Linked DNA regions of Homo sapiens. Changing the gene in region 7 together with the main gene of any one other region gives a genetic interaction. Each region holds a gene or a part of one and is shown on either strand. Other genes may lie near its edges. The genes, in order: LTN1, CYB5B, PDCD7, TCF25, XRN2, BOD1L1 and MCM3AP.

Region 1 (3,500 bases), about 17 Mb from region 7:
TGAAAAAGGGAATAATAGTGAGATTGATTCATTGGAAATGACTTACTGAAAAATTCAAAAGCAAAAATTTTGATGTTTAAATCAAATAATACTAAATAGTAAAAGAAAAAGCCAGAAGAGAAAGCTTGGCTTCTCAGAAGCATCATCTATGCTTTACTTTACAGACAGAAATTGAAAAATGGCAAGGTATCCAATGACTGTTGCAAATTAAAATAATAATACTTCAGATAACATGAATGGATGATGTGAATAGAACCTTGCTATTGAACATTTGCTGGATCAGATAAAAGTCATTAAAACAGTTGAGATTAACTGGAATATATATTCAGTTCATGTTTCTAGTTAAGACTGCTTTATTGTTTATGTCTAGTTTTTATTTCATTTTCTTAAATGACATTTGATTGTTTGTGAATCATTTAAGCTATACTAACTTTCTTTTGAGACGTGCATGTTTCTTTCCTTTTTGTCATTAGGAGAAAACAAAGATGTGTCTGAAACATCCTTTCAGAATGCAATGCTGAAACCCATGTGTGAAACATTAACGTATATCTCAAAGGAACAGCTATTGAGTCACAAACTTCCTGCAAGATTAGTTGCTGACCAAAAAACAAACTTACCAGAATATCTCCAGACTTTGTTAAATACATTGGCCCCATTACTCCTCTTCAGAGCTAGGCCTGTGCAAATTGCTGTTTATCATATGCTATACAAGTAAGAATTCATCCAATTGAATCAATGTTACAGTGGTCTAAAAAAATAGAATATATGCTTAGTTTTTACTTTTAATTATTTAAAGTAAAATTTTTAAAAGAAGGAGATCTGACTGCTTCACTTATAGGGACCCTAAGTTGCCTCATCTTTTAGGTTATTGTTCTCTATACACAATTTATATTTCAATAGTCCTGGCTATAGTAGTTATTTTAAAGAAAACTCATTAAAACATTTACTCATTATAAAATAAGTATTGGTCTTTCTGCTCTTGAGCACGACTTAATAAACAGTTTAATATCACATATTTAAAAATAATGTTCTAATTTCTAGATTGATGCCTGAATTACCACAGTATGATCAGGATAATCTAAAGTCATACGGAGATGAAGAAGAAGAGCCAGCCTTGTAAGGTTTTTTTAAATAATTTGTTTTATTAAATTCTTATAATCCATCTCACTTATAATGTCTTTAGAGGACTGAAGCAGCACAGAAGCTATAGAGTTATATTCATTCTACAGATAGATCTTTTTAGTTATCTGTAAGATATAAATGAAATATAGATTTCACCCAAAAGATTGTGTCACTCTCTTAATTGTTCTTAAATCACATTTTCCGTTTGCTACTGTTCAGTAAAACTATCTTTGGCCATATGGTGGCTGTGGAAAGAGTGTATCGGTTCAAGTATCTATTGAGCATCCACTTTGTGCAGAGTATTAATTAAATGCTGAGGGGAATATGCAGTGTTTAGTGAGCACTTTCTTTTCCTTAAGGAATTTATCTGATACAGATGATACTGTAGCGTTATGGAAAATATAGTATATGATAAGTGCTAAGAAAAAGGATAGATAACTTTTTTTTAAAGGTCAGTTAGGCCTATATAAGATAGCATGTATGAGGGCACAATTAATGTACATCAGGAAGGGAAGACTTTCTTTTGAGGAAGAGGCATTTAAACTGGACCTTTAAGGTTAGGTAGCATTTCTGCAGGACAGGAAAGACAACATAAGTTAAGAGAACATCATGTACAAAGGCACTGAGTCATGAATGTGAGGATGTGCTTGGGGAATATTGAGTAGTTACCACTTAATGTATAGTTTTATTGATAATATCTTTCTTTACTGGAATGTAAGTTCTGTGAGGGCAGGAATTTCTCTCTCTTATTTCTGAGAGAGAAATAGGCTAGAATGCTGTAGGCCAGAATGCTTCCTGGCCTATAATAAATGGCCTTAAAAATGACTTTTTTGGGGGGATTTGGTCATTACTTGGTAGGAGATAGGGCGCCACCAGCCGATTCTGACACTAATGTGAAACATGAATTGTAAAAAGAAGCAAGCAGAGGTGGAGCTGATTGCAGAAGTTAAATAACAATGCATGGAGGGCAATGTGAAAAGTGGAGAGATTTTGGAGCTGGTATTTTATAAGATCTAGTGACTATCAGTATGGAATATAGAAGGCTGGGTACATGAGATGGAGGTGTTGAAGGAAAAGACCTAAGAGCAGAAGTTTGGAGAAGGCCTGTACTTGTGGGCTGGGAGAAGGAAGCCACAAGGGAAGAACGATCACAGAAGTGAAAGGAGAGAACCAGGCTAGAGTATCATGGAGAAGAGAGTTAAGTATTTTACTTTTTGAGAATCTCATAAGTTCACCTGAAAGTATAAATGAGTAGAGTAGTTCAATAAAGAAGAAAATTAACTTACATTGTTGTGAATTAATCTGAATGGTACATTTATTTTCCTAAAAAGATTACAATCATGATTTTTTAAACAGGCACATAATTATTTTCTGTGTTTATCCGATTAATAGTATCATTGTGATATTTCTTAATAGTACTAAGTAGATAATATGCAATAAAATAGAAACTAGAATGAAGTGACAAAGTTCGAAGTCTTAATCTTCACTTTGTCTTTTATAAGATGATAAAAGGCCGGGTAGGATTTAGAATCCCTAACAGTTTCCCCTACTAACTGAAAGACGTTGGACTCATCATTTGGCTTCTCTGGGTGTGTGATTTTTTTTCACTTAGAAAATTGAAAGAGACGTTTTCTAAAAATGTCTTTCCTTCAAGTGCTATAATATGTCTTTTTTATTTTACTGTTATGTGAGATTAGGAGTTAAAATTGGCTCAATAGAGGGGAATTTTTAAAACGTTTTTTGGAAAACAGAGAAATTTTTCTAAAATGCTTGAAGTTTACAAGTACTGTCAATTTGTTAAGGAATGAATTATAAAGAAAACTTGTGGTGTTTAATCATTGATTCTTAGGTCACCACCAGCAGCACTGATGTCTCTTCTTAGCATTCAAGAGGACTTACTAGAAAATGTTTTGGGGTGTATTCCTGTTGGACAGATAGTTACTATTAAACCACTGAGTGAAGACTTCTGTTATGTTCTGGGATACCTTCTCACTTGGAAATTAATACTAACTTTCTTCAAAGCTGCATCATCACAGGTAAATAAATATGTGACAACTTTCGATAGTTCTGTCCTAATATGCTTCTGATACTGTTCTAAATACCTTCCTTTCAGTTTAATAAAAGGAAAATCCTTATGTTTTAATCTCATCTTTTAAAATTTATTTTATTTTGTTTATTTGAGACAGGGTCTCACTCTGTTGCCTGTGCTGGAATGCAGTGGCACAATCTCGGCTCACTGCAACCTCTGCCTCCTAGGCTCAACCGATCTTCTCACTAAGTAGCTGGGACTACAGGTGCAAGCCACCATGCCTGGCTAATTTTTATATTTTTGTAGAGATGGGGTTTCACCGTGTTGCCCAGACTGGTCTCAAACTCCT
Region 2 (3,500 bases), on a different chromosome or scaffold from region 7:
AACCCAACTATTGTGTTGCCTTTCAGAGTAAAAGGACAATAAAACTCCTTCATAGATTACAACATTTCAGGGAATGACTGAATTTTTGACTTGCTACACAGTTCTTTCTACAAGTACTTTCACTTTCATCAGTCTCTCACCACTTATAAACAAGAGAAAGCACAACACTTTTTTAAAATATTAAGTAAAAGTTATATATTCGCTGTGGTAAATTTGGAAAAAAGAATAATCAACTAGAGTCCTGGAACAGAAATAAGTCCAGTTAACAATTTGGTGCATAAAACTTCATTTTTCCTGTGTATTCTTTCAATCATTTCAGCCATTAGTCTACAATTTTTTATTGAATCCTTACTATTTTGTGTGGTAGGCAGTGATAAATAAAAGTTTTTTGTGTTCTCACAAAGTGAATTCATGTAGTACATAATGTTTTGTAGCCTGCTTCTTTTTTTTTTTCACTGAAGCAAGTGGGGGTCAGAGTGATCAAACAAAATTCTACGGTTTAATAACTTTCACTCTAAAATATGGTCTTAATAGAGATGGCTTAGAACAAGCAAAAAGACGTCAGGGAGCTTTTGGTTTCTGTTTAGAACTCTATAGTCTCCAGATAGAGTTAGCGAAAATCAAATGGATGCAGGGCTGCCATGGGCCACTGGCAGCCCAGCTGGAGGAGTTGGAATCACTGCACTAGGCCCGAGGCTATAGCAGGGTCCTGGCCAGTCTTAGGCCAAGATAATGCCCAGGCTGAGGAGCATACGAAGGCCTCGACGAAAACCCAAAGAGCCCCGGCACCCCAGGAGAAGCCAGACCAGCTCTCAGTGAAGACAGAGGGTAGGAGCTACTGTCCAACTCCAGCGTCAGCCACTGGATGGTCCCGCCCATGTTTATCATCTGCTTCTTCTCAGATATGATCTGCCACTACATGTTCATCCTGGTACAGAGCGACAAGAAGCTCACCCAGGAGCAAGTATCTGACAGTTAAGTCCTAATTTGAAGCAGAGCCTTCAGTGAAAATGGAAATTACATTCCCAAAAAGTCTTTTTCTTGACATGAGAATATTACATCAACAACCCAGAGGATAAAAATATCACCACTTCCTCCCACTATGCTCTCAGGCATGATGAAAGGAAATATAACAAACGTCATCCCTATGATTCTTACTTGTGAATGGATCAACATTGACATACTCAGGCATTGTTGCAACCAAGGTCCTATTTCCACTGACCCTCTGTTTTTTGTTGTTGTTGTTTGTTTGTTTGTTTGTTTTGAGACGGAGTCTCACTCTGTTGCCCAGGCTGGAATGCAGTAGCACAATCTCGGCTCACTGCAACCTCTGCCTCCCAAGTTCAAGCGATTCTCCTGCCTCAGCCTCCCAGGTAGCTGGGACTACAGGTGCCTGCCACCATGCCCAGCTAATTTTTGTGTTTTTAGTAGAGACAAGGTTTCACCACGTTGGCCAGGCTGGTCTCGAACTCCTGACCTCAGGTGATTCACCCGCCTCGGCCTCCTAAAGTGCTGGGATTACAGGCATGAGCCACTGCACCCGGCCGACCCTCTGGTTTTAAGCCTATGCTGCAGCAAGTTATCAAACTACTCACATTAGATCCACCCTGAATGAGCTCTGCATCCTGGTATTTCCTCAACGTATTTGGGCTTCAGAGAATTTACTGTGATTCTAGGCCAAGATAATGGCAACTGACCAATAAGAAATGAGGCAGGAGCAGATGACCAGAGCAGCCATGGCCATGCCCACAGAAACCAGCAAAGCTTCCAAGACAAAGTAGAAAGTTCTGGAGCTGATGGGTCACCAGTGGACACCAGATGATGTCAAAGAGCTCATGGGCAAAGGCCTTCACTTTGAAGTTATGTTCAAAAAGGAGTTACAAGACCAAGTGCCATGGCTCACGCCTGTAATCCCAACACTTTGGGAGGCTGAAGAGGGCGGATCACTTGAGGCCAGGAGTTTGAGACCAGCCTGGCCAACGTGGTGAAACCCTGTCTCTACTAAAAGTACAAAAATTAGCTGGGTATGCTGGCGCTCACCTGTAATCCCAACTATTCGGGAAAACCACTTGAACCCGGGAGGCGAAGTTTTCAGTGAGCCACAATCGCACCACTGCACTCCAGCCTGGGCAATACAGTGAAGCTCTGTCACAAAAAAAATTTTTAAAAAAGCCTCTATTTTTTGAAGACCAAGTAGTAAAAATTAGCTCTGCCAGAACTTGGAGTAGTCCTTAACCTGCTAACTTGTGTTTGAGCTAGAGACTCTCAGAATTTAAAAAAAAAAAAAAAAAAAGGATAGCTAGGCACAGTGGCTCACACCTGTATTCCCAACACTTTGGGAGGCCAAGGCAGGAAGATTGCTTGAGGCCAGGAATTCAAGACCAACCTGGGCAACCAAGCAAGACCTTGTTCTCCACAAAAAAAATTTTAAAAATTAAAAAATTATCCAGGCATGGTGGCCTGTAGTCCTGGCTACTCAGGAAGCTGAATTAGGAGGATCATCCAGAAGCCAAGGAATTCGAGGCATGGCGCCACTGCACTGCAGCCTGGGCAACGGAGACCCTGTCACTAAAAAAATTAAAAATACATAAATATTAAAAAGTAAAAAATAATAATTTAAAAAGAAAGATATATGAGCCGCTGAGCATGCAGCAAGGATCATTCTTATCTGAGCCAGGTTTCCCTTTATGCCTGAAACTAGAAAAAATGCAGTGTGTGTGCTGGATGATTTACAGGGAAAGAGCCATTTAAAAAATGTTTTACATTTTCCTTCTGGTGACTCTAGAAATGAGAGGCAGAGAAAGGGGAAAACTTAAGCTAGCCAAAATATAAACATTTACCAAAAATTCAATCTTTGAAAAAGCATTATTATTTTCTGAAAGATTTCATGTAAACAAAGAAAGAAAAAGCATTATTAATTATAACTAATTATTATATGCAGTCTGACTTTTAATCACAGTAAGCTCCTATTTTGAGATCCAAGCACCCTGCATTTTTATATTTAATTGTTAGTATTTTTATAACTTTCTTTACAAAAGTAATAATTTTCATTACCAAAAATTTAGAAACTATAGATAAGCAAAATGAATCTCCCTGTATTGTTCATTCTGAGCCTACAGGATGACATGAAGAGCAAATACGTGAAAACTTCATTCACACAAACTCTTTTCAGACAGATTATCCAGGGCCAGGAAAAGTAGCAAACCTTCTATATATTTTAATACTATCCAGGGAAAATTAGTGACCCTGACATACTGCCAGATCTATTTCCCATCTAGGGAACTTTCAGGATCATCAAAGACAGGTTAAGTAATGGGAAGTTCTTGATCTAGAGTTGAGAATATTATCAAACCCACTGAAAAAAAATGAGTTTCTATACTGTATATGTCCAGTCAGTTGAACTAAAAACCCCAGATATTCTAGATAAGAGTTTACATAACTTTTTAAGAAGGCAGAGAGATCAACTGCTGGCAGACATCTAGGTGAGGGTTGCACAGGAA
Region 3 (3,500 bases), on a different chromosome or scaffold from region 7:
TGCAGTGATGCCGTCTTGGCTCGCTGCAACCTCTGCCTCCCAGGTTCAAGCGATTCTCCTGCCTTAGCCTCCAGAGTAGCTGGGATTACAGGTGCACACCACCACTCCTGGCTATAAGCTGAGTCTTAAAGGAAAAGTCACCCAGGTGAAGGTAATAGGTGCAGTTCCAGGGAAACAGAGTAATCCAAATGGAGAAGTGAAACAGCTTGGTGTTGGCTGTAGCTGTAGTGGTGGAATTACAGGCACTTATTTGACAGATGGGGGAGAGCACTTTAGGCAAGAGGATTCTCTCCACCACCCATGGTGAACTTTTTATTTTATTTATTTTATTGTTTTAAGGAGACAGGGTTGGGGCTGGGCGCCGTGGTCATGCCTGTAATCCCAACACTTTGAGAGGCCAAGGCGGGCGGATCACCTGAGGTCAGGAGTTCGGGACCAGCCTGGCCAACGTGGTGAAACCCTGTCCCTACTAAAAATACAAAAAATTAGCTGGGCATGGTGGCAGGAGCCTGTAAACCCAGCTAATTGGGAGGCTGAAGCAGGGAATCGCTTGAACCCAGGAGGCGGAGGTTGCAGTAAGCCGAGATCGCGCCATTGCCCTCCAGCCTGGACAACAGCGAGACTCCATCTCAAAAAAAAAAAAAAAAAAAAAAAGAGGGTTGGGGGCGGGTGCGAAGTGGCTCACTCCTGTAATCCCAGCATTTTGGGAGGCTGAGGCAGGCAGATTACTTGAGCCCAGGAGTTCCAGACCAGCCTGGGCAACATGGAGAAACCTCGTCTCTACAAAAAACACAATTAACTGGGCATGGTGATGCTGTGATCACACCACTACACTCCAGCCTGGGCAACAGAATGAGACCCTGTCTCAAAAAAAAAAAAAAAAAAAAAAAAAATACAAAGTTTCACTCTGTTGCCCAGGCTGGAGTGCAGCGGGTTTGTCATAGCCTGTAGGTTTGAACTCCTGGTCTTAAAGTGATCCTCTCGCCTTAGCCTCCTGAGTAGGAATAGCTAGGGACACATGCCATTATGCCCAGCTTCCATGGTGAGGATATTGGTGACAGAGTCTTATGAGGAGTGGCTTGAGGAACTGGGGTTATTTAGTCTATATGTGAACTAAGTCAAGAGTAGGACAGCAATCTTTGGTATTTGAAAGGCTGTCATGTGGAAGAGATCCTTGGGACTTTAGAGCAGTGGAACACAAACATAGGTTGTCACTAAGAGACCTTTGTAGAGGTCTCAGCCTTTCCAGCCACATTCCTTATCCTTCCTGGGAATCTGAATCTTCAGGTCTAGGGAATCTGCATTTTTAACAAGTCTCAGCTTAACAAGGTAAGTTGGACACCTGATCTCTGCACTACACTTTGAGAAACACTGAGGAAGAAACAAAACCAGTGCTATGTGGAAGATACAGAGAGGAGAGGTTCTCCTTTAAGATGAAGGTTGTACCATCAGTGGAGGGGGATAACCTCTTAGCTAGAGGGGAGTTGTGCAAGGCCTAAGAAATTGGGATGGAGATTCAATAGAGTCTCTCTTAACCTGGAGACTGTCTGATCCTTTAAAATCTAACCACTGGGCAGCTATTCTCTGCTGTAAGTTTGTTCCTAATACGAGGTCTCATGGGCTTTGTTTCTCTTCCAGGAGCAGGAACTCAAAGCAGCCGCTGATGGCGTACTATCTGAAGTGAGGAAAAAACAAGCAGATACCAAAAGAATGGTGGACATTCTACGGGCTTTGGAGAAATTGAGGAAACTGAGGAAAGAGGCTGCAGCGAGGAAAGGTAACTGTGGCTTTGCATTTCTTTCCTTGTTCCCTTCCCCTTCTTTACTCTAGCTCCTCCCACCCCAAATATTATTGAGGGAAAAATACTTGAAACTTCATGATTTTCACCTTGTCGGGTAACTGGGCTTGTCAGCAAGTAGGTCAGAACTTCTGAAGCAGGAAGCCTCAGAAGATGTTTAGCCTGTGGTAGCCCAGATTGAAAAGAGAGGCAAGTGTGGGAACCCACTGCACTGTCTTCCCCTTGACTTATCATTCCTACCCTGGGCATTTCTGGCCACACTCTTCTGAGTGGGCTTGTCATGGCTAGTCACCTTTGCCTTGTGCCAGAGTGAAAGCTTTTCACCCTTACTTGTTGCTCCAGAAAGTGTTGAAAACTTGGCATGCTTCTTCAGATACATTTCAAACCTGAATTATTTCTATTTGAAGAGGTATGAATGGTTGGACAGGGCAGGGATTGCAGACTGTGTGGATTTCCCCACCTTCCCTTCATGTCACTGGTCTCTTCTTGCCTCTGGAGGAAGCACCAGACACTATAGCCAGGCAGTTCAAGCTTCTCCACCGAAGTTTGTTTCAACCATGCTGGCTTTCTAGAAGTTACCCAATTGTGCTTTCCATTTGCCTGTCTGGATCTTAGCTGTTGTCATTCTGTTCATCTGGAGGGCCCTCAGTCCCATCTTTGCCATTTTAAGATCTCACTATTCAAAACCAAATACACATGCAGCATCCTTCATCCTTCCCTGATCTGGGCTGAGGTAACCTCCTGTTGCTTCTCACTTGCACCTGCTTTGGACCACATGCTGATTTATTTAGTAGATTGTAGGCCTTTGGTATTCACCAGAGATATTTGAGAGTGTACAAATTAGCAAATGCCACTCTAACAAATGATTTCCCATGTGTTGTTTAAAATGTAAATGAAAACTGGGATTCTTTTAGACCCTTAAGAAAGTTGTGTTGGAATATGACCATTTTGTATTCACCCAGGCTCGTTTGCTAGCTAAGTGATTGGCTTTTGCATACTAGCCTTCAGAGCGGCTAATTCACATCCAGACCTCAGAAACAGATGCCTCCATTGTGGTACTCTCAGGGCATTTGTAAATCAGAGGGAAGTTAGCATCTGCTTTGTCTACCCATCTCTTTTTCACTAGAAGGCAAAACCTGAGAGCTATTTAATATTCCCACACCTCACATCCTCTATGAGGTGAGTGCTCAGTAAACTTCTGCCAAGTGAATTTACCAGCATTTCCCAATATTAATCTTCCTCACTTTGGTCCAAAAGGAGGAGGAAATTTTAGGAAAATCATTATCTATAGAAATAAACAGACTTTGTGGCATTAAGTGACTTGAATGTAAAATGATTTGGTAAGTAGCAGCTGGTTGCATGCATATTTAAAATGAGCAGCTAACTTCTCTCTTCAAGATGTGTGCACCTCCAACTAAGTGCTGAATGATGAGGCTGGATGTTTAAGCAGGACCACGTTGCAAATTGTCTTATGGGCTATGCTAGAGTTCTCACTTATACTTAAAGCTTTGGGGAACCGCTGAAAGTTTTTTTTTTTTTTTTTTTTTGAGACGGAGTCTCGCTCTGTCGCCCAGGCCGGACTGCGGACTGCAGTGGCGCAATCTCGGCTCACTGCAAGCTCCGCTTCCCGGGTTCACGCCATTCTCCTGCCTCAGCCTCCCGAGTAGCTGGGACTACAGGCGCCCACCACCGCGCCCGGCTA
Region 4 (3,980 bases), on a different chromosome or scaffold from region 7:
ATGCCTGTAGTCCCAGCTACTCGGGAGGCTGAGACAGGAGAAGTGCTTGAGCCTGGGAGATGGAGGTTGCAGTGAGCCGAGATTGCGCCACTGCACTCCAGCCTGGGCAACAGAGCAAGACCTCATCTCACAAAATAAAATAAAACCCTAACCCATCCTGGGAGGGGCCAGGCCGGCTCACCAGGGCTGCTGCTTGTGCTCATGAAGCCGCAGTAAGTCGGGCAGGAGGCTGCTGGCACCTGTCTTCTCTATGCCCTCCTGTCCCCATGTCCCCAACCCCAGGCACAGGAAGCTGTGCCCTCCGCCCACTGAACCCAGCACTGTCTCAGCCTCATCTACTTTATTTTTTTCATTTTTTTGAGACAGGGTCTGGCTCTGTCGCCCAGGCTGGAGTGCAGTGGCGCGATCTCGGCTCACTGCAGCCTCAGCCTCCCGAGTAGCTGGGATTACAGGCGTGCGCAGCCACGCCCAGCTAATTTTTGTATTTTTAGTAGAGGGAGTTTCACCGTGTTGCCCAACCTGGTCTCGAATTCCCGACCTCAGGTGATTCGCCCACCTTGGCCTCCCAAAGTGCTGGGATTACAAGCGTGAGCACCGCGCCCGGCCCTTAGATCGTGACAAACGCGGGCGGCCTGTCCTAGAACTGTCAGAACCACTGTCCCTAAAGAGGCCTCGGGCGGGCAGTAAGGGCCGCGTCACTCAATGCTGCTCGAGGGGCGGCGGCTCCAGGGCAGAGGCGGGCATCGACGGCTAGATCACTCGAATGACACCCTGACACGAAAAGGACCAACTAGCAACGTCCGGGACGCAGCTGAAATGCTGCAGGCACGGTGCGGGGACAGGCCCCGGCGGGCAGAACGCGGCTGCGGGTTCCGGGCCACATGGATGGGCAAGGCCGGGCAGGGCCGACTGTCGCCGGCTGCGCGCCCGTTACCCCGAATCGAAGCCCGTCATCCCCGCGGGGCACCTCTCCATGCCCGGTGCGCACGGCGCGCAGACACCCAGCTCTCCAGAGACCTGGCCCGGACCCCCCGGAGCCCGCCCAGACGCCGCCGCTGAAGCGGGAAAGTTCCGGAGAGCCGCGACGCGCAGGCGCCGCAGCCAGGTCCTGCCCCCACCCCTCGCGCCAAGAGTGCGCAGGCGCGCAGCCAGCTCCCCCGCCCCCGACCCCGCGCGAAGAGTGCGCAGGCGCGCCGACAGCCGAGTTTTCTGCGCTTCCTTCTCCCTCTCTCCAGACGTCGTGGTCGTTCGGTCCTATGTCGCGCCGGGCCCTCCGGAGGCTGAGGGGGGAACAGCGCGGCCAGGAGCCCCTCGGGCCCGGCGCCTTGCATTTCGATCTCCGTGATGACGATGACGCGGAAGAAGAAGGGCCCAAGCGGGAGCTTGGTGTCCGGCGTCCCGGGGGCGCAGGGAAGGAGGGCGTCCGAGTCAACAACCGCTTCGAGCTGGTGAGGAGCGCGGCGGCCCGGGTGGGGGTGGGGTGGCCCTTGACGTTGTGGGGCGGGGCGAGCGTCCAGCCGGGTCGGGGAGCGGGGTTGTGATGCCAGGGGTGGGAAGGGTGACGTGGGTCCCAGCCGCAGTGGGGAGGGCGGGGCCGTGCGTCGGGGCCAGGGCGACGCGGGTGGGCGGTGGCGTGGGGTGAAGACGGCGGGCCGCGGAGTTAGACTGGGTTCTAACCCCGGTGAGGTGGGCGGGGCTAAGGGATGGGGCGGGGCCGTGCTGTCGGGGCGGGGCGACCGAATGGGCGGGGTTAAGCGGGGTCCGGGTTGTGGAGGGTGCGGGGCCTTGATGCCAAGGGCGTGGCCAACGTCCGCGGGGCCGGGCCACGACGTGGGCGGGATTAAATGGGCCTGCGGCCACGTGGCTGTCGTGGGGCCGTGACGCTAAAGGGCGTGGCTAAAGACGGGGGGGTGGCGAGGCGATGGCGTGGGCGGGGTTAAATGAGGCCTGGGGCCACCGTGGGGGTGGGGCCACGGCGTAGGGGCAGGAGTCGGGTGGGGCTTCCCTTTCTCGAGTCTAGAGGGGCCTTCTCTCGGTTCCAGGGTTGAGGACTTGCCAGGCCTCTGCGAGCATTCTGCTTTAATCCTCACAACAACTCTGCCTAACCCAGGGCCTTGCTCTTCGCGCATCCCCATCAGCCTAACCCAGCGGATTAGTCTTACTCTTTGCTGCATCTCCGGCAGCTCGTTTCTGGCACAGGGAAGTAACAGTTTGACTGTATGGTTTGCTCATGCGGTCCTGTGACGTTTTCTCCTAAGCCCTGGCCTCCGTCTGTAACTCTGCCTCTGCGGGCTCTGCGATCCTCCCACCTCAGCCTCCTGAGTATCTAGGACTACAGGTGGATGTCACCACGCCCGGCTAATTTTTTTTTTTTTTCTTTTTTGTAGAGAAGAGTTTTCGCCTTGTTGCCCAGGCTGGTCTAGAACTTCTGCGCTCAAACAATCTGTCCACCTCAGCCTCACAAAGTGCTGGGACTACAGGCGTGAGTCACCATGCTTGGTTGACTGCCCTTCTCGCATCAAGTCCACCTTTAGTGGTCCCCAAGACCCCCGTCAAGGTTCAGTAATTTGCTAGATTCACAGCAGTTACTGAAAGCTTTTTGTTTTGAGATGGAATCTTGCTCTGTTGCCCAGGCTGGAGTGCATTGGCACAATCCTAGCTCACTGCAACCTTGAACTCCTGGGCTCAAATAGTCCTCTCACCTTGGCCTCTCAGAGTGTTGGCATTAGAGGCATGAGCCACTGTGCTTGGCCCCGTAAGTCTTTTTAAATTTTTGTCAATGTAATTTGTGAAAAATGATATCACATTATTTTATTTTACACTTCTTTGGTAGTGAAATGCAGCACCTAGCTATGTATTCGTTGACCATTTATATTTCTCTTTGTGACAACCTGTTTATATCTTTGCCTTTTTATAGGGGGTTTGGACAGTCTTTTTGCTCGTGGAAGCTTGCTATCGATTGTCTCTAACGTATTTTCTCGGTTTGTGTTTGTTCTTTAACTTCTTTAATTTCTGCGTGCTGAAAGATACTGGAGCCACTTTTCTCATTGTTACACATCCATCTCTCTAGAGTGTCTTCACATAGATATTCCCTGACGTGAGTTTTTTTTTTTTTTTTTTTTTTTTTTTGAGATGGAGTCTCGCTCTGTCGCCCAGGCTGGAGTGCAGTGGCATGATCTCGGCTCACTGCAAGCTCCGCCTCCTGGGTTCACGCCATTCTCCTGCCTCAGCCTCCCAAGTAGCTGGGAACACAGGCGCCCGCCACCACGCCTGGCTAATTTTTTGTATTTTTAGTAGAGATGGGGTTTCACCATGTTAGCCAGGATGGTCTCGATCTCCTGACCTCGTGATCCGCCTGCCTCGGCCTCCCAAAGTGCTGGGATTACAGGCGTGAGCCACTGCGCCTGGCTTTTTTTTTTTTTTTTTTTTTTTTTTTTGGTTACAGACAGGGTCTCACGGTGTTGCCCAGGCTGGTTGCTGGTCTTGAACTCCTGGGTTCAGGTTATCCTCCTGCCTCAGCCTCCTGAGCAGCTGGGACTACAGCATACCCTACCATGCTCAGCTTGTTCTTTTAATGCTTTTTTTTTCCCATTTAAATATTTAATCTTTTTGGTATTTATATTTGTGTTGGTGGGAATTTGGAAAAAGTGTGGTTCATGAGTTGACAGAGTAAGAGTCTGTAAGGTCAGAAACCACACAAACCCTTGTGGACTTTCTGGAGTGAGTTTGAGTGTCAGTAACACTAACAGCCTCCATGGATGAATGACTGCTTATCGTGCTGTGTTCTTAGGAATTTCAGAGAATTTTATCCAGTGGCACACATCAGTCTTAATTTAAGCATTCCATACTTTTTTGCTCTTAAAACTCATATTTGGAAATAATATAATCAAAATGTTTATTGGCATTCTGTTAAATAGCTCTTAATAAACAGAAGTATGGGAGACAGTAAACAGCCAGTTACGACTAAATGGTTATGAATG
Region 5 (3,500 bases), on a different chromosome or scaffold from region 7:
AATAGTATTCCTTAGGTGTAAACTCTGGCTCTCCAATTCAGCATGGAATAGATCTAAATAAATATCTTAAGGTAGCACTTACTGGTTACTCCCTGTTTGTGAACTCAGCAACTGCATGCATTTATTTGCCTTGTGGTATTCTTCCATATTTGAACTTGGTAATCCAAACTCCAGAAGCAAATCAACCTATCCTGCAAGGCTGTACTTTGTCCACCACCTTCCTATTGTAGTGGAAATAGACCATGAGCTCTCAGAATACCCAGTGGGACAGCAACAGGGCTGAGGGAACAGACCCTGATCTAACAGTAGAGGAAGGAACATACACTTTTGCTATGATATATCCAAGGAAATTGAATAAGCTTGGATATTTAATTTCTGTTATTCTGTTAGTTATCCTATTGATGCTCATATGGAACAGAAATAGCTGATGCCCATCATTCAAGATTTTAGTGACTACCATCCCCGCAGAGCAGAACTGAGAGTGACTGGTGGTGTTATATGCCCTGTTGATGGTAGAGTACTTTTTTTTTTAAATCTTGGGAGGCAGGCAGGTTTAAACTTTGCCAGCTGTGGTTGCTTCAGGAAGCATTCCAGTATTATCTTCAGGCCCGGTAGTATTAGGCCACAGGACCAGACTGTAGATCGATAACATCTGCCATAGGAGTAGTAATGGGGAGACTGGTGATGAGGTTGCTTCTTTGATTCTGTCTTAATTAACTTCCCTTGCCACAATTATTTCTATATAGAGGAGGTATGGAATTCGAATCTTTGCAGAGTGGGATTTTCACCTAGAATGTTCTAAATTTAAGGAAATTTTGAAGTCAAATTACCAGTTTATTTAAAGGGAGCCATTAAAGTTACAGATTTCTCGTGTTTTATTTTTCTGAGCTGTTGGGTTGTAGTCTCTAATACTTATCTACTGATGATTAACATTCTTAGTGTTTTATTAAATAGCTTCCATTTCCTTATATTTGTGGTTTTATATTTAGCGTTCTTCAGTGTGGTTTCATTATATCTAATTTGATGAAAAAAACAGCTTAAGAAGAAATTTGAATTTAATATGAATCTGGTATGTTCACAAGGGAATATTTTTGTTGGTAGAGACAGCAGCGGAGATTTAGCATTAAATGGTGAACAGCATTTTTTTCTAGAAAGTATATTATTATTTGTTTTCTAAAGATAGAGTTTATATCTTGTTAGTAATTAATTTTGTTAAAGTTTGCTTTTTACACAACTTCTCTGTAGACAGTTAATGGGAATGTCACTCTCATAATTTAATACAAATGGATTAGTGTAGGGTTGAAAAAACAATAGTGATTACTTACTGAATGGTTAACTACCATGTACCATGTAGGCAGCATGCCAGTAATCTTTCACATGTATTGATGCATTTAATCCTTGCAATAACTTGTAAGGAAACAGAACGTTATCATCCCCATTTTAAGATGAGGCTCACAGAGGTTAAGTAATAAATTGTTCAAGGCCACACAGCCAGTAAAGGTTGAATTTGGTATTTCAGACTCAGATCTGTATGACTAAAATACAACAATACCTGCCTCGTTTTCCAAGTACAACAGTGCCTTCCTGTATTTATTTTTATTGGGTTTTTTTTTGACAATATTGTCTGTACCTTTTCATTAATAACATTGACATTATGTTTTTAAAAGAGATGTGCTCTAAGTTCTATGTGAAATATGATTTCGTATTATTTTAACTTTTCTTGACCTGTGGTATGAACTGTGTTTATGCTGTGGATACTCTAATTATTATATCATTCAAATGGCCTTCTGTGCTCTCAGTTTAAAAAAAATTCAGTTTACTTGAAATAGCTAATATACTGTGAGTAACAGAAGAAAAACTTGACTGTGGAAATGTTTCTGCCCCTTATGTTTTTGGTGATGTGGTCCTTTAGCTTGAGTAACTAAAGTTGCAGAACATTTTCTTTTAATTTTTAAATATTAAAATATGTTAGGGTTATATTAAAATATGTTAATTAAAATTAACGTATTATGTTAATTGAGTTAGGTACAAAGGGAAGATAATACTGAATTTAAAGTGACAGCTAAGTCTTTGAAATACCAATAAAATCTGCATTTTTCTAAGATGACTAATAGATTTTTATTTGTTGATTGATTTTTAAAACTGAACATATAAAGTAATTTAAGTTATCTAACACAGTCTTATTAAACTTGCTTTTCAGAGTGGTTGTACTAGGTTGAAGACTTAACCATTTAGCTGCATTCTCACCAGCATTGACTATTTTATATATTATTACATCTATATTATTATATATTATATGCTATATATGTAATGCATTTTATATATCACATAATTTTTTCCCCTCATAGCTTTGCCATTTGGTAGGTGGCAAATGATTGTGAATTCCTAACAGGAATTGTTACAACTGATTGTCACAAATGATTGTGAACCACCAAAGGAAAATAAAATTCAAGTACTATAATTTTTAAAAATCTATAAAATTAAAACTTTTTTTTTCTTCAGAAACTTTTTTTTTTGCCCTAATAATGTTAATTGTTTTTAGTTTAAGCATAGAAAGTTTGGGTATTACATTACTTCTTTTGAGGGGAAGTGAAATGGAGCAAGATCAGTCTCTGTACCTTCTAAATATGTTTACCATCTCTATGTAGTAGCTTTAAAAATGTTACTGTGAAACATGGTAAGTAGTGGTGGTTGGATGTACCTTCTTATGTAAAATGAATAATGAAATCCTTCTTCTGTAATGTCATCATTGTCTGCAGAGTCCTTCGATATCTCCTAATACGAGTTTCACATCTGATGGCTCCCCGTCTCCATTAGGAGGAATTAAGCGAAAAGCAGAAGACAGTGACAGTGAACCTGAGCCAGAGGATAATGTCAGGTGAAGCCATTTTTTGGTAGCACTTTGTTAGCAAATTGCTGAAATAGATGCAGTCTAATTAATGCTATTTAGCTTAGAGCAGCAGTGCCTTCAGATGCTTGCCTGTGATCTTTTTATCCATCAGTAATTAATGTGGAGGGTTAGAATAGTCAGTAAATTCCAGTGAGATGTGTAAGCTGTAGCTGTTAAACCTAAGTGTCTAGATTAGTATGCGTGCAGGCTTTCGTCCTCCAATCCACTTTTCCCTCTGAGACCAGGCACAAGATCGGCTAGATATCATATCTAGGTGTTTAGCTCTGACTATGTGATCTGAATGTTGCTGTTTGGAGACTGATTAAATTTTCAAGCTGCTTAACCTAGAAAGTTCAGTTATACTTAGACACTTAATATAGTTTGCCTTAATCTTCTCTATTGAAAGAGTTCTTCCTCAAAATGAAATATGCAGAAATCATTCTGTTAAGAGATCAATATGTATGTTTTTTAAAAACCACAGACTTGCATATGCGCAATTATATTTCATGACAGAGGAGTTTCCCTTTAACTGTATACTTCAAATTTAAAATAGGAAGCTGATTCTTTAATTCATCCTGAAGTTTGAGATCATTATATAATAAGATTAACA
Region 6 (3,500 bases), on a different chromosome or scaffold from region 7:
TGATTCATGCTTTATATTTGACTCTTTCCCCCTTAGGAATGTTGAAGAGAACTCCAAAAAGAAACAGCAATATGAAGAAGATTCCAAAGAAACCCTTAAAACAAGTGAGGTATGCCTTAATAAAACCTCATTTCAAATGCTGTTTTGTTAGATATAGGCTGTTTATTCCTTTGGAGTAAAACTTAGAATGTAATTTGACTTTTTTCAAGTCAAATAAAAAGTCAACTTACATTCAGCATTTTTGAAACCCCATTTTGTTATGTCCCAAATTGCCCATTTTGTTGAGTTGATTTATATATTTGTCGTTTATCTAGGTAATAGCTACTCTTCTTCTCTTTTCCCATTTCTTATAATTGCAATAACAAAAATGCCAGTAATGACAAAAAAAGAAAAAGGGAGGCTAAAATTAAAATCTAAAATCCCTCCACTATAACAAATTATCCTTTTTATTCCCTCTCATTCCTTATCCACGGGTCCACATAATTTTTTAGAGTACAAGTAATCTGGCAAACTGTTTTTAACATTTTACTCATTTCATGTTACCTTCTAGGCATCCTAATTATTTAATGATTGTCTAGTGTTACATATAATGTACATACCATAATTTATTTAAGCATGTCCTTATATTTTAGCGCTTAGGTTGTTTCCAAGATTTGATCATTTTAAACAGTAAAAGTAACGTACAATGTTTTCTTCCCCCTTTCAGGATTATTTTCGTGGGACAAACTTTTGCTTTCACTGTTTTAAAATTCTTTTTTACAAAAACCACATTATCTGTAGTTCTGTAGCTAAACTATCTTAATATTTCCAGAGGGAAAAAGCAATGTTAGTGATTATTTGTTCATCATCAGCAAACATAAATTTAATTTATTTACTCAGAAATTAAAGGCGTATTTAGAAGTATATAGTGATGGCTTAATGACATATTTTTAAATATTTAACTTTCTTTTATGATAATTCTCTATAAGAAATTATCTCATAAAATAGTATTCACATTGCTTAGAATTAGTTTTTTATTGTGAAGTTGATGCAAACTCCTGTTAGTTCTTTGAGGAATTTTATTTTAAGCTATTTAATAAGGTCTTGTTATGTCCTGGACCCTGTTATTAGTAGAAGTACATTAATCTTTGTGTTGACATTTAAGGAGATGAAGTGTTAAACTGACCTAGAGGCACAAAGGTCCGTCTGAACTTTGGCCCATTATTTGCATAAGAATAATTATAGCTAGTAGTCAGTGAGTATTATTGAAGTGGATTTAGTCAACCTCCACTCATTAATATTAATCGCCTACTTAGTGCCAAACCACAGGGCCAGAAGGAAGGTTTAGATGCTCTTGTCTCTCCGTATCTTTTTTTGAATACATAAACATATACATATGTTATATATGATATGGTTACTGTGCGTTATTGTGTACATTTGAAGCTTCATGTGTAGAATATTGTACAAGTAGCCTAAATTCATGAGGTTTCCATACATAATTCAGCTTTTTAAATTAAAATATAGGAAATCTATATTTCAGTATATTTCAATTTTAAATTGCCTTCATGTATTATGTTTTTGACTGAAAAGGACATTTGACTGTCATTTATTCAGCTCATATTTATTATTGAGTACTGGGCATTAGTGAGTTCTAGTGATTCAGAATTGAAGAATTCATAGACAAATCAGTGCCTGTGATATACTGGAAGGAGTACTAGACTCGGAATGAAATAATCTAAACTCATTCCTAACACACCTACTTGTGGTCTGAGTGTCAAGTTATAGAATCATGCTGAGCTACAATTTCCTGATGTTTTAATGGCATATTTTTAAGTATTTAACTTTATTTTGTGATAAATCTCTATGAGAAATAATCTCATAAAATTGTTCATATTGTTTAGAATTAGTTTTTTTATTGTAAAATATGGTTGTTGCAAACTCCTGTTAGTTCTTTGAAGAATTTAGCTTCTTAAAATCAAGTTAATAATACTTATTTTTTAAAATCAGGTGAGTTTTTGACACCTACACAGGCTGTTTGTAAGAATTAAGTGAGATGTTACATATGTGACAGCACTCAACATATTAAATCCACCCAAATGTTATGTTTTAATCTAAAAATTGATTTTGGTATTTCTCATATTTTAACCTTTGTTTTCTTTCAGCATTGTGAAAAGGAAAAAATTTCTTCTTCAAAGGAGCTGAAGCATGTTCATGCAAAAAGTGAACCAAGTAAACCTGCCCGGAGACTTTCAGAGTCTTTGCATGTAGTTGACGAAAACAAAAATGAATCCAAATTAGAAAGAGAACATAAAAGACGGACATCTACCCCTGTTATCATGGAGGGGGTACAGGAAGAGACTGACACAAGAGATGTAAAAAGGCAAGTAGAACGCTCAGAAATTTGCACCGAAGAGCCCCAGAAACAGAAAAGCACACTTAAAAACGAAAAGCATCTAAAGAAAGATGATTCTGAAACACCACATTTGAAAAGCCTACTTAAGAAAGAGGTGAAATCCTCCAAGGAGAAGCCTGAAAGAGAGAAAACTCCATCGGAAGACAAATTGTCTGTGAAACATAAATATAAAGGTGATTGTATGCATAAAACAGGTGATGAGACTGAGCTTCACTCTTCTGAGAAAGGTTTAAAAGTAGAGGAAAATATTCAAAAGCAAAGTCAACAAACAAAGCTTTCTTCAGATGATAAAACCGAACGAAAAAGTAAACATAGGAATGAAAGGAAATTATCAGTATTAGGCAAAGATGGAAAGCCAGTTTCTGAATATATTATAAAAACAGATGAGAATGTTCGTAAAGAAAACAACAAAAAAGAGAGACGCTTGTCAGCTGAAAAAACTAAGGCAGAGCACAAATCAAGAAGGTCAAGTGATTCTAAAATTCAGAAAGATTCTCTGGGTTCCAAGCAACATGGTATCACATTACAGAGAAGAAGTGAAAGTTATTCGGAAGATAAGTGTGATATGGACTCCACTAACATGGATAGTAATTTGAAACCAGAAGAGGTTGTTCACAAGGAGAAACGACGAACAAAGAGCTTGTTAGAAGAGAAACTTGTGTTGAAGTCTAAATCAAAAACTCAAGGCAAACAGGTAAAAGTTGTAGAAACAGAATTACAAGAAGGTGCCACAAAACAGGCAACCACTCCAAAACCAGACAAGGAGAAGAACACAGAAGAAAATGACTCAGAAAAACAGCGTAAGTCTAAAGTTGAAGACAAACCTTTTGAAGAAACTGGTGTTGAACCTGTATTAGAGACTGCTTCTTCTTCAGCACATAGTACACAGAAGGATTCTAGTCATAGAGCCAAGTTACCATTAGCAAAGGAGAAATATAAGAGTGATAAAGACTCCACTTCCACCAGGCTTGAGAGAAAGTTGTCAGATGGCCACAAAAGCAGAAGCTTAAAGCATAGTAGTAAAGACATAAAAAAGAAGGACGAAAATAAATCAGATGACAAGGATGGTAAAGAAGTTGACAGTAGTCATGAAAAGGCCAGAGGTAAT
Region 7 (3,500 bases):
GTTTCACCATGTTGGCCAGGCTGGTCTCGAACTCCTGACTAGAGATGCATGCCCGGCCAAACCATGCATTTCTAATAATCACTTTCAGCAGTTTCCAGCATTACTTTTTTTTTTTTTTTTTTCCTGAAGAGCTGTCTCCTGGCCGGGCGCAGTGCTCACGCCTGTAATCCCAGCACTTTGGGAGGCCAAGGCGGGCGGATCACAAGGTCAGGAGATTGAGACCATCCTGGCTGATATGGTGAAACCCCATCTCTACTAAAAATACAAAAAATTAGCCGGGCATGGTGGCAGGTGCCTGTAGTCCCAGCTACTTGTGAGGCTGAGGCAGGAGAACTGCGTGAACCCGGGAGGCGGAGCTTGCAGTGAGCCGAGATTGCGCCACTGCACTCCAGACTGGGCAACAGAGCGAGACCCCATCTCAAAAAAAAAAAGGCTGTCTCCTAAAGGAAGGGCAGCATGACTTTTTGCAGGTGCAGCTTATCACAGTGAAGCAGACACGGTCGGCCATGTTAGTTGTGTTAACCGGCATGTGATGTGAAGTGCCCTGGCTACCTTGTCTGTCTGGGGAACTCTGTTCTCAAAGGCTTTTGCTTTTCACACCAGGCCTACTTTGACAGATCTCCGGCTGAATCCATCTTTTCATCTTTTGGCCAATGTATTTTCCTCACTTTCCGTTTTGTGACGAGCAGTTTAGTTGCTGGTTTGACATAATCTTTGACATTCAAGTTCAGAAAATGATGAAAGCTAGAAAATGGGGAAGCTGAGAGAGAATGCCTGATTCCTTTTAGTATGTCCTTCTACCAAAATAATTTCTGTTTTAAAACATGTAGGCTTAATATTTCCTTATGATATTAAAGACTTTTTTCATGCTGAGTTTATTTCTTTGAAATAGAAATCAGTAAGTGTTCATTTTAGCTGTTTAAATGAGCCTATCTTTTTTTTTTTTTCGGGGGGTGGTAAGTTAGAGTCTCACTCTGTCACCCAGGCTGGAGAGCAGCAGTGTAATAATCTCAGCTCACTGCAACCTCTGCCTGCCAGGCTCAAGCAATCCTCTCACCCCAGCCTCTCGAGTAGCTGGGACTAGAGGCACATGCCACCATGCCCGGCTAATTTTTAAATTTTTTGTAGAGATGGGGTCTCCCTATGTTGCCCAGGCTATTTTGTTTTTCAAAAGTATGAAATATTTCAAAATTATATTAAAGTCAGTGAGTAATGTGAATAACGCTTTTGTGCTCATTACCATCCTTATCAAAACTCATCTCATTTCAGTGCTTGTAGTTTCTCAGCTTTAGAGGACCAGAAAATCTTGAAAGATGAGGGGACGTGTTCAGAAATGAAAATGCTCTGAAGGCCTTCCTGGGACGAGGGCCCTCAGTGTGGTGTTTACTTTATAGCTCTCCAGTGAAGAAGCCAAGTCTTCTAAAGGCCCACCAATTCGAGGGAGACTCTTTTGACTCAGCCTCCGAGGGCTCCGAGGGCCTCGGGCCATGTGTGCTCTCCCTCAGTACCCTGATAGGCACTGTGGCTGAGACATCCAAGGAGAAGTACCGCCTGCTTGACCAGAGAGACAGGATCATGCGGCAAGGTATGGCACTTGGTGGCAGAGGTTCTAGGGGCCTGGTGAGGTCGTCATCTTGGGTGCCATCAGGGCAGGAGCAACTCCTTTCCATTGGGCTCTATTGCTGTTGAGTCTCAGAGCCTGTGATATGCTGTGTCTGATCTTCATAGTCTGCCTGTCTTCTTGGAGTGAGTGTTGCGTGTATGTGTACATAAATGTGCAAATATGTTTGCTAATGTATGTATAAAATAGTAGTGGGAGGATGCAAAAGAATGGGCTCCTGTCTGTAGAGGGAGCGGGATTCCGAGGGGCAGAGGTTATGGTGGAGTGCTCCGTCTTGGACAGGGCATTCTTACACTGTTACAATGTTGAACTGTGTGAATGTATTACCTACTAAAAAGTAAGTATTCCATTAACACTAAAAATATATGCAGGGACCAAAAATAAAAGGAAAAAACACAGGTACTTCTCTTAGCCAATTTTTTTCTCTTAAATTTCAGCCGGGCTGGGCATGGTGGCTCACACCTGTAATCCCAGCACTTTGGGAGGCTGAGGCATGAGGGACCACCTGAGGTCAGGAGTTAAAGACTAGCCTGGCCAACATGGCAAAACCCCCATCTCTACAATAAATAAATAAATAATAAATAAGCAGGCTGGGTGCGGTGGTGTGCATCTGTAGTCCCAGCTACCTGGGAGGCTGAGGCAGGAGAATCACTTGAACTGGCGAGGTGGAGGTTACAGTGAGCCGAGATTGTGCCACTGCACTCCAGCCTGGACAACAGGGTGAGATTCTGTCTCAAAAAAAAAAAAAAATGCTGGGCGTGGTGGCTCACGCCTGTAATCCCAGCACTTTAGGAGGTCGAGGCTGGTGGATCACCTGAGGTCAGGAGTTCGAGACCAGCCTGACCAACATGGAAAAACCCCATCTCTACTAAAAAGACAAAATTAGCCGGGCGTGGTGGCACATGCCTGTAATCCCAGCTACTTGGGAGGCTGAGGCAGGAGAATGGCTTGAACCCGGGAGGCTGAGGTTGCGGTGAGCCGAGATTGTGCCATTGTACTCCAGCCTGGGCAGCAAGAGCGAAACTCCATCTCAAAAAGAAAAAAAAAATCAGCTATAGGAGTTTCCTCTTTTTAAAAGCTGTGGATAATTTGAATAATCACCATGTTTCCTTAATATAATAACATATAGTAATAAAAGCTGCCATCAAACATCATATCATTGATACAGTGATTTTTATATTCTAAAAATTATTATTAGGTATTAGAATTTTTCTTTTTTTTTTTTTCCTCGAGATGGAGTCTTGCTCTGTTACCCATGGTGGAGTACCATGACAGAGTGAGCGCAACGTCAGCTCACTGCAACGTCCGCCTCCCGGGTTCAAGTGATTGTCTTGCCTCAGCCTCCTGAGTAGCTGGGACTACAGCCATGCGCCACCACGCCCGGCTAATTTTTGTATTCTTAGTAGAGATGGGGTTTCTCCATGTTGGTCAGGCTGGTCTCGAACTCCCGACCTCAGGTGATCTGCCAGTCTTGGCCTCCCAAAGTGCTGGGATTACAGGCGTGAGCCACCAGGCCGGGCCCAGGTATTAGAATTTTTCAACATGAAAACAATAAGTATATATTTTGAGTGTGAAGTTGTTGCATTTCCTTTTCCTTGCAAGCTACATTGTAACTTAAGTGTAATAGCAGTTTACTCATTCAGGTAAGAACCCAGTTAACGTCCATTATATGATTCTTATATTAAAGTCATGGTGAATACTGAGACAGTTTTAGAATAGTGATATATTTTGAATATTTGCAGTTGTTACAAGTCAATCCTTTTAGTAAACATCCTGCACCATGATTTTTTGTCATTGAGGTCATTACAGGAGTTAGAAAACTCCGGCTGAAAGTGAGGACACTCCCCTGCTTTTATCTGCAGTGAGGGTCTGTGACTGT

What was found.
Region 1: changes in MCM3AP (region 7) and LTN1 together harm fitness less than expected from each alone (positive genetic interaction), as found in Homo sapiens cells (one large-scale study listed by BioGRID).
Region 2: changes in MCM3AP (region 7) and CYB5B together harm fitness more than expected from each alone (negative genetic interaction), as found in Homo sapiens cells (one large-scale study listed by BioGRID).
Region 3: changes in MCM3AP (region 7) and PDCD7 together harm fitness less than expected from each alone (positive genetic interaction), as found in Homo sapiens cells (one large-scale study listed by BioGRID).
Region 4: changes in MCM3AP (region 7) and TCF25 together harm fitness less than expected from each alone (positive genetic interaction), as found in Homo sapiens cells (one large-scale study listed by BioGRID).
Region 5: changes in MCM3AP (region 7) and XRN2 together harm fitness more than expected from each alone (negative genetic interaction), as found in Homo sapiens cells (one large-scale study listed by BioGRID).
Region 6: changes in MCM3AP (region 7) and BOD1L1 together harm fitness more than expected from each alone (negative genetic interaction), as found in Homo sapiens cells (one large-scale study listed by BioGRID).

The regions. Positions count from the first base shown.
Region 1 is NC_000021.9:28,940,878-28,944,377, reverse strand, and holds part of LTN1 (E3 ubiquitin-protein ligase listerin), read left to right. Parts: intron 1-473; coding exon 474-711; intron 712-1,041; coding exon 1,042-1,116; intron 1,117-2,971; coding exon 2,972-3,158; intron 3,159-3,500.
Region 2 is NC_000016.10:69,441,619-69,445,118, reverse strand, and holds part of CYB5B (cytochrome b5 type B), read right to left. Parts: intron 1-3,500. UniProt on the Homo sapiens protein: Cytochrome b5 is a membrane-bound hemoprotein functioning as an electron carrier for several membrane-bound oxygenases.
Region 3 is NC_000015.10:65,127,309-65,130,808, reverse strand, and holds part of PDCD7 (programmed cell death protein 7), read left to right. Parts: intron 1-1,638; coding exon 1,639-1,777; intron 1,778-3,500. UniProt on the Homo sapiens protein: Promotes apoptosis when overexpressed.
Region 4 is NC_000016.10:89,872,412-89,876,391, forward strand, and holds the start of TCF25 (ribosome quality control complex subunit TCF25), read left to right. Parts: upstream 1-1,180; 5' UTR 1,181-1,256; coding exon 1,257-1,448; intron 1,449-3,980. UniProt on the Homo sapiens protein: Component of the ribosome quality control complex (RQC), a ribosome-associated complex that mediates ubiquitination and extraction of incompletely synthesized nascent chains for proteasomal degradation.
Region 5 is NC_000020.11:21,341,331-21,344,830, forward strand, and holds part of XRN2 (5'-3' exoribonuclease 2), read left to right. Parts: intron 1-2,759; coding exon 2,760-2,878; intron 2,879-3,500. UniProt on the Homo sapiens protein: Possesses 5'->3' exoribonuclease activity. May promote the termination of transcription by RNA polymerase II.
Region 6 is NC_000004.12:13,603,726-13,607,225, reverse strand, and holds part of BOD1L1 (biorientation of chromosomes in cell division protein 1-like 1), read left to right. Parts: intron 1-36; coding exon 37-109; intron 110-2,141; coding exon 2,142-3,500. UniProt on the Homo sapiens protein: Component of the fork protection machinery required to protect stalled/damaged replication forks from uncontrolled DNA2-dependent resection.
Region 7 is NC_000021.9:46,275,612-46,279,111, reverse strand, and holds part of MCM3AP (germinal-center associated nuclear protein), read left to right. Parts: intron 1-1,394; coding exon 1,395-1,585; intron 1,586-3,500.